2 linked regions of the Homo sapiens genome follow. The protein of the gene in region 1 interacts with the protein of each later gene in a pairwise test. Each region holds a gene or a part of one and is shown on either strand. Other genes may lie near its edges.

Region 1 (4,494 bases):
GCTACTTTGGCTAGTTAAGAGTAATGAAAATCTTAAGACTGTATTGTAGATGGCAATGTAAGTGGTAAAAAAGCTAAGTCGTAGTCTGAAAAGTTTGGAGTCAGTATTTTCAATATTCAGCAATCATGTTAGGTATTACTTTTTCCCAAAACTAAAGAATGCATAGGACATAAGTTAAAAGTTCATACATAACCTGGCTTCAAATCCAGTTCTACCACTACCTGAAAACATCAGTTTATTTCTCATCAATGGGTTGTTATAAAGTACCTAGCATAGGGTATTGCTTAAATGTTAATACTCCCAATCCTGACACTAATGTTTCAGGGAAGAGTGAAAGAAATCACATTAACTCCACATTATTGAACATCTTCTGTGTCAGGCTGAATACATCTTTGTATCCATTGTCTTCTGGTTGTTTAAAGACTAGTGTAGAAGCCTGACATGTAAATCGGTGATTATATAAGATAGTACTGTCTTGTAATGTGTTGTGCTAGAGAGGTTAAGTATTAATTATTATGGGAGCTCAGGAGAGGCACCCACTGGCTGCTGGGAGAAGAGCAAAAACCTATATATAAAGCAATTTTTAAGATTTTGGTTCTATAAGGGATAGATGTCGTATCCAGTTAGTGTATTCCCAAAGTCCTATAACACATGTCAAGATCGGGAAAGCTCACACACACAATAATGCCAAAGAAAAGTTCTTTCTTCTCACCCTTTCAGGAATCTACTTGAAAATGGATCGGTTTATGTTGGATTAAATGCTGCTCTTTGTGGCCTCATAGCAAACAGTCTTTTTCGACGCATCTTGAATGTGACAAAGGCTCGCATAGCTGCTGGCTTACCAATGGCAGGGATACCTTTTCTTACAACAGACTTAACTTACAGATGTTTTGTAAGTTTTCCTTTGAATACAGGTAAATTCTACTTCACTATCACCAAAGAGTTTGCCTTAGTATATGTTATTTGCAGCTTTAGTCCATACTTATTAATATCAAGTAGCTGTATGCTGTAATGCAGTTAAGATTAAATCTTGCTAGCCTATATAATGTGGCAAATAATTCATATTAGTATGGTCTACCAACCAAGATGCACATACACAGCAGTTCTAAATACTTTTTCTTTAATTGAGATGGAGTTTTGCTCTTGTTGCCCAGGTTGGAGTGCCCTGGCGCAATCTTGGCTCACTGCAACCTCCACCTTCTGGGTTCAAGCAATTCTCCTGCCTCAGCCTCCTGAGTAGCTGGGATTACAGGTGCCCACCACCATGCCCGGCTAATTTTTTGTATTTTTAGTAGAGACAGGGTTTCACCATGTTGGCCAGGCTGGTCTCAAACTCCTGACCTCAGGTGATCCACCCGCCTTGTCTTCTCAAAGTGCTGGGATTACAGGCGTGAGCCACTGCACCCGGCAATACTTCCCTTTTTCTAACATATCTTTCTCACAGTGCTCATTTAGAGTAAGAAATATTTGGAAATCCATATATACATATATATGAAAATTATATATATGGAAATATTATATATATACAAATGTATATAAATAATATGTTGGCTACCTTAGATTTTTTATTTATATTTTATAGAGAAGTTCCTTAAAGGGGGAAAATATTTTTATGGGAATAACTCTTTATACAGTAAATCTCTTAAAGCACTAAATGCATATACATTTATCAAATACATGGAGATTTGATTTCCTTTTGAAAATCTACCATGTGTGCTGAATACTTTGAGTACAGTTAATCATAAAAAAAACTTTTGATTAATTATTTCAAATAAAAATATTACCATGGGTGCTAGGGAAGGCAGTCCATCTAAATTTTGTTAAGTGCTGCTCCAAATTTGTTTAAATTTGACGAGTATTTTGTTTTAATTCCCATGACCAGTGGAAACAATTTCTATGATCAAGGAAGACCTATCGCCCATTTAATTGAACAGACTGAGTGAAAATATTAGCCTAGGTCTGTTGATAAAAAACAAGGCAGAAAGCTAGCAGTAGCCCAAACCATGAGATTATTATATCTAAGTTGAGAACAAATTAGAGAACTTTTTTTCCTAAAATAGTTTTACCAATTATTCCTAGCTATTTTAAGTTACTCATAGATGTAATTATACCTTTTAACAGGCTTTGTACAATTACATTTGATATATTACCTGAAAAATACCTGTGATACACAAAAGAGGATCTTACATTCTTTAAATCATGTTTGCTTGACTATCATGACCTTCATTTCTATGACTAATTTATTTCCTAGGTGATTTGGATTGTGAAACCTGTACCATAACACGGAGTGGACTGACTGGTCTTGTTATTGGTGGTCTATACCCTGTTTTCTTGGCTATACCTGTAAATGGTGGTCTAGCAGCCAGGTAGGAAATAAAAAACTTTTTATAATATGTGATTACCTATAAAACTCACAACTTAAAGCAGCAAATATATTTTGTTTTTAAGGCATTTAGACCAAAGGCAATGTTACCCTCTTGATTAGAAGTTAGCAAGACCTGTTTTTTCTTATAATGAAATTCTACTTATCAAGAATTTCAAACAGTTATACTTGGTGTGTAGTTAGGCTATTAACCTTAATTTGTGTACTGAATACTAAACTAACTACAAAGCTGCAAACAGTATTATGCATGAAACTTCTATCATATAAACAATTATCTTGGATGAGTTTGAACACTTGCACTAAAGGAAAATTCCATCAGAAAATGTCTAGCTGTTATATTAGCCTTCTATTCTAAAATAATTCTGGCTATTCTCTGTTGAACTCTTGCATCAGCAATCTATGCTATAGCCTTGAAGCAAACTGGATAAAGAAACAAAAGTTTTTAGGATTAATAGACACTGAAGACCTTTACTTTAATATTCAGTTTTATCTTAAGACTTCTAGGACTAATATGTATCACAGATGGGTTTGCCATTTGATGCAACAATCTTTTCTATTGAACTATCTCAATGTTTTCTTACAGGTATCAATCAGCTCTGTTACCACACAAAGGGAACATCTTAAGTTACTGGATTAGAACTTCTAAGCCTGTCTTTAGAAAGATGTTATTTCCTATTTTGCTCCAGACTATGTTTTCAGCATACCTTGGGTCTGAACAATATAAACTACTTATAAAGGCCCTTCAGTTATCTGAACCTGGCAAAGAAATTCACTGATTTTAAACAAATATGTAAACAAAAATAAAATGGTAAAAACAGTTTATGTCTAATGTTATGTCTAATGTTATGCATAAACATAGACTTGTAATTTATCACGAGGTATAATTCTGGGACCTACAACAAAAGGCTACACAGGGCAACAAAAGGCTGAATCTAAGTAAAAGCTACCCACTTAAACAAGTTTAACTTCACGAGTTTGCCCAGTATTGTCTCTTCTACCTTGCTTGTTCTACCTTAGGCGTTGAGTTTGGTCTGTAACACAAGAGGAAAAAGTAACTATATAGTATTTTACACTGAAGACTTCATAATGACAAACAGGAATAAAAAATGAAAAAATATCTATCAATATACTATACCAAATGTTACTCACAATTCACTTTCTCAATTCAAATTATTAATCCATAGATTCTTAGAACTGATTTAACAACCTTCCTCAAATCAATCATCTTCTTGAGTCATTCAGGCTCAGCTTCAGCTATTATGATATAGACCTACCTACTTCGAGTCACCTTATTTAGAAAGCTGTATTTTTAGTTTAGGTAGTCTTTCAAGCTTCCATTTATTGTGGCATATTTAGAATCACAAAATTAACTAATCTCTCTGACCCTCAGTGAAATATCCTAGTTGGTTCATTTCCTAAGATCATTTAAATTTTTGATGTGCTTTCTTCTGTTCTCCTAACATTTCTCATCCTAGTTCTCTAAACCATTTTATTTTGTGACAGCAACTAAATCAGCATTCTCCAACAGAGCGTTCTGTGATGATGGAAATATTTTCTATCTGCACAGTCAATATGTTAGCCACTAGCCTATGTAGCGGCTGGGCACCTGAAATGTGGCAAGTGCAATTGAGTAACTGAATTTTTACTTTTAAACCATTTAAAATGTTTAGCCACGTGACTAATGCTTACAGTATTGGACAGCGTAGATCTAAACCAACACTTATGAAGCAAGCCAATCATCACAGAAAAGTACCAAACAAAATTTTAAGTGGCATCCAAGATTATTCATGAATCTCTTAATTATTACTTCCAAATAGTGACATATCTGTTAAGTCATCTTATGCTACTTAAAATTATAATTTAGAAAAGGCATCTTTGTGAGTGAAACTGGCCTTTAGCTTCTGTTTAAAGAAAAACATAAAGCTGTGCTGCCAAAGATGAAAAACTCATGTGAAATTAATAAAATACAATCTCAATTTTTCAGAAAGCAAAGATGATTTGTTCTTTCAACAGGCACATAAAATATATTATCTACCAAACTTATATAAAAAATGATCCCAGTTATGAGGCAAAAGAATCTATGTGCACAAGAGACTGAAAGGAAGCATGCC
Region 2 (4,956 bases), on another chromosome or scaffold:
TCACTGAACTCTGGAAAATACTTACTATATTTATGGGTTTATTATAAAAGATATAGCTCAGGGCCAGCCCACTGGAAGAGATGCAGAAGGCAAGGTATGGGATATACCACCTTCTCAGCACTTTGATGTTGTTTACCATCTGAATCTCTGTCATTTGAGTTTTTATAACCCAATCTCCAGCTTCCTTCCTCTCCTGTAAGTAGTGTTGAAAGTTATCACCCTCTAATCAAGGGTTTAGTTTTTCTGGTAACCAGCCCCCATTCTGAAGCCATCTAGGCGCCCCACTCTAAGTCACTTCATTAGTATGAACTCAGATATGGTCTAAAGGGCTTGTTATGAATAACTAAAGAAATTCTATTGCTTAGGAAATTCCAAGAGTTTTGGGAAATATGTGGCAAGAATTCAGGACAAAGACCAATTACAATATTATTATTATACCAAATTCTTGTTATGCTTCAATGTTAAGACGGTTTCTCTTTTGATTATATCGTTCATGCTATAATCTAATTAGTATATTGTTTATTGTGGAACATTTAATTAAAAAATGGAAAATACGTTTTTATTTTTAGCAAAAGTTTAAATTTATTGCTTTTTCTCTTACAGGTCACTGATGAATTGTTGGAAAAAATTGCATCAAGAAGTCAGAATATAATTGAAATCAACATTTCTGATTGTCGCAGTATGTCTGATAATGGCGTATGTGTTTTAGCATTTAAATGTCCTGGACTTCTTAGGTATACAGCCTACAGGTGTAAACAGCTTTCTGACACCTCTATTATTGCGGTTGCCTCTCACTGTCCTTTACTTCAGAAAGTGCATGTAGGCAACCAGGACAAACTCACTGATGAAGGACTCAAGCAGGTAAATTTTAGCATTTATAAAGTGATTTTACTTGAATTAATTAAAAATGTTTTCTAGCAACAACATTTTAAATGGTTACGTTAAAAATAGTTCCCAGAGACTCAAGTGAATCATCTTTTTTACCTATTAATGAATATTTGTTTAGATTAGTTAACTAGAGTGCCATGGTTATAATCAGTAAATTAACTGCTTTGTTTTATAGTGAGAGCCTGAACTTCTGTGACCAGCCATTTTATAAATTTATGCTTTTGTTACTTAAATTTTTTACCACATTTTGCTTTGGGCAACTGCGTAGTTTTGGTCAGCATGAGGTTTTAAAAATTAACATTTTAATTCCCCTTTTATTATACTAGATGACATACATGCTTAAATATCTGAATGTTTAAGGGATAAATGGACGTCCAAATTGAAGATTATAAAAGTTAGAACAAAGGCCTAATTACCTCTATTTGGTACAATAACTGGGTTAAAAATAGTATTATGCATACCTTCTGTTTATTATACTTCCTTTGGAAATGGCATTTAAGGTTTCTTGGCTCGGAGTGGATTATTTATTCAACAGATGAATATCCTTAAATTTAAACCTTATGTATGAATTAACTGAAAGCTTGGTATGAAAAGAAATTTGGGAAGACTCTATCCTAAATAGTGAGTACTGGGTGTGTCAGTACAACTTATATATTAAGAATGTTACCAACTTATAAGGGAGCCTATTTTGTTTGCAAAGGCATATTGTGCAAAAAGTCTTATTTGTTTTAATATTTTTCTTGATTCATTTCTGCTATGTACAGGATTATTTACTAGCAAAGCATTTCATGAAGTTCTTAAACATATTAAATTAATCTTTTATGAAGAAATATATATTTTGTGTATATAGCATGATTTTATTTACTTTGATGGAAATTTCTCAGCAATTTATTTTTCACAATGAAACATTTTAAAAAGGTGTATGTATTAAGAACTGGATTAAATCTATTTCATATTTAATTCTGATATAACACAAATAGGTAGTAGTTTAGCAGACTTCTTAGGGTATACCTAGTAATTTTTGTGAAAAAGAATAAGATCGTAGTCATGGTTGAAGTAGAGAAGGAGCAACATTTAATATGCTAATCAAGTATTATGAATTTATCTTATATTTACAACTTTGAGAGTAATTATGTAAATCTTCTCTAGAATGTGAGGTATTTTGGAGCCTGTTACTTAGATGTTTCCTTCGGATATTTATGGTTTCTGAATTATGAATTAGTTACACGTGAGGTAATATTCTGATAAAAGTAGCAAAACAAATTTTTTTCCCCTTAGGTAGTTTTCTTCTTAAGTAATTACATAGGATCTCATTGCAGTGTAGAGAATATTTTTCTGTACTTAAGACCGCTATAGCTGGGTATGTCTGATTTCATAATAGACTCTTTCCTCTGATGGAATAGTGTTATGGGTATAGTAGAAAGAGAATGGCTTTCATATATACATAAAATAGAAATTAAGTTTTATGAAACAATACACATCCTTATGTGCAATGCACATGGATATTATCTATTCTGTTCTATACTATTATGTTAAATGTTGGCCTTGACCCACTCACTAAATTAATTTTATGACCTAGTGATATTTCATAAATCCGAATATGGATTTATATTATGGTTTTAGTAAACTGACAGTGCTATGTTAAAATGTATAATAGAGTTACGAAAGCCTAAGAGGGAACTAGCCATAATTGATGATTTGCCTGGGACTGTTATTTTTTCTTGAACTCATTAATTTAGCAATTGACTGAATTGTTGATTCTACAGATTAAGTTGTTGCAGGGTTCTGTTTTTTCCCTCTTCTGTCAGTAAAAATTGAGAAATGTTTTAGAATGATATATGTAAATTTTATTGATAATTTCTTTAGAATATATTTTCTTTATAACTGCTATAATTTTGATTGACTTTAGCGGATACCAAATATGTGTGCCTTTTGAATTCTGTCAGTTTGTTTACAAAAACAGTTGCTTATAGCATTTCAATTTGGAGCTCTAATAGATGTAGACTCTAATGTTTTAACTATTGGATTCTGCTTAACAATATTTCTTAAGCATGGTGAAGCACCTAAAAAAATCAGGCTGGTTTTGGTTGAATACTATCCTCTTTGTGAAATACCACCCTGAAATATTTATATTTTTATTTTCATAATAGTCACTCAAAATAATTTTACCAGTGGAATGTGTTCCTATTGTATATATCTTTTAAAACTACAATCATGTATCTAGAGGAAAAATCTATTTAAGAATAAAGGGCTGTTTCAATTTTCCTAATATTTTGTTATCATCTAGCACTTGCCAGTAAACAAACGATAATAGTAGTCAAAGTATTAAAATATATCTAAGAAATTGTATGCATTGTTACTATATTATGTGACTCAATTATATGCAGTTTTAGCAGTTTAACACTCCAGCTCATGGAGCTCAGTAGAAATTTCTGTAAATAAGTCACTGTAGGCTTTTTTCAGATAAAATGGTACAAAAATAATAAATGTTACATTAGTAAATTTTGATCTGGCTATGCTATCAATTTTTAGGTCTTTAAAAATAACTACTTAGAGTACTATCAGCAAAATGTTGGAGCAGGCAGCTCCAAAAGCCTGCCTCTCCAAAAAAACATTGAAAAACAAGCCTAAACTATCAGATCCAACTTTGTCAGAACTCTGGAAACGTCAAAGGTTTATAGCAACCAAAGGAATGCTAGACAAGAAAAATGCAACTGAAAGGTGGAAAGAATGCTTTGTGGGTTTTTTACTTGCCTGTGCCTCACCCATTCCCCAGCTTGGCAACAGTCTTGAAGATAGCAGTCCGAGTTCCCAGTGTGGGACCCAGATCCCTGGTTCCAGAGGGAACAGAGCAGACCTTATTTGCAAATTATTCATTTGTCTGATCAACCTACCTGAGAGCTATTTGAAGGGCTGATGCAGGTGCTTATATATCTGTTTTACCTAATTTAGAACCCAGTCAGGGAGGAAAATTAGTGGGCATTGATTGAACACAGTATAAGGCAAATGAAAGAAACTTGCTTTTGAGCAAGCTTCTTTGGGCAATAGATTATGGTGAGACATACAATTGACCTAGGAGAAAGAGCCTGGGAGAGAGTTTGTTTTTATTTTTGTTTTTGTTTTGAAATTAGGACAATCAGCCTCAGTGTATAGAAGGGAATTTTGAAAGCCGCATGCATGCCCAGGGCAGGACACTTGTTCAGGAACGACCTAAGAAGACTGTAAACTTTATCACTGTGTGCTTGCTAGGTCCAGTACAAGCAGGAAGTAAAGGCCAAGGCAGAGTTGTGAATGGTATGGCTAAGTCTTAAAGAAATATCCCAGCACAGAGCCAGTCTGCAAAGACTTGAATAAGTGCTTTTGTTTTTTGTTTTAGTTTTGTTTTTAAGCTTTGGCATCCAAGGAAATCTCTTTCAAAACACTGGCTGAACACAAGCTAAGCCTTGATTAATCAAAAATAGTGAAGCGTAGGGAAGTGGGGAGAATCTAATTTCCCAAGTTACCACATTATAATCTAATATTTTAATATTTAGTTTTCAACAATAAATTACAAGGCATGCAAAGAAAAAAGTATTACCCATTAAAACAAAAAAGAATAAATAGAACCCATTCTTGAGGAAGCCTGGACATTGGATTTACTAAAGATTTTACTAAAGATTTTAAATCCATTATCTGAAATATGCTCAAAGACATAAAGGAAACCATGGCCAAAGAAATGAAGGAAATTAGGAAAATAATGTATGAACAAATTGAGAATGTCAATGAAGAGCTAGAAATTATGGAAAGAACCAAATAGAAATTCTGGAGCTAAGAAGTACAATAACTGAAATAAAACATTTACCAGAGGGATTCAAGAGCCGAAGTGAGCAGGTGGAAGAAAGAAGATAGGACAATTGAATTTATTGAGTCTAAGAAAGAGAAAGAAAAAAGAGTGAAGAAAAGTAAGTAGAGCCTAAGAGATGGGTGGGACATCCATCAAGCAGAAAAACATTCACATTTTGCTAATTCCAGAAGGAAAGGAGAAATAAAAGGGGCAGGAAGAATATTTGCAGAAATAATGGCCCAAAC

Evidence for each region. Proteins that work in one complex are often made in the same cells at the same time.
Region 2: the proteins of TMEM126A (region 1) and FBXL17 interact in a two-hybrid assay, tested with the Homo sapiens proteins (one large-scale study listed by BioGRID).

The regions. Positions count from the first base shown.
Region 1 is NC_000011.10:85,653,343-85,657,836, forward strand, and holds the end of TMEM126A (transmembrane protein 126A), read left to right. Parts: intron 1-720; coding exon 721-914; intron 915-2,251; coding exon 2,252-2,366; intron 2,367-2,966; coding exon 2,967-3,159; 3' UTR 3,160-3,200; downstream 3,201-4,494. UniProt on the Homo sapiens protein: Protein required for the cotranslational protein quality control in the inner membrane of the mitochondria.
Region 2 is NC_000005.10:108,360,643-108,365,598, reverse strand, and holds part of FBXL17 (F-box/LRR-repeat protein 17), read left to right. Parts: intron 1-603; coding exon 604-861; intron 862-4,956. UniProt on the Homo sapiens protein: Substrate-recognition component of the SCF(FBXL17) E3 ubiquitin ligase complex, a key component of a quality control pathway required to ensure functional dimerization of BTB domain-containing proteins (dimerization quality control, DQC).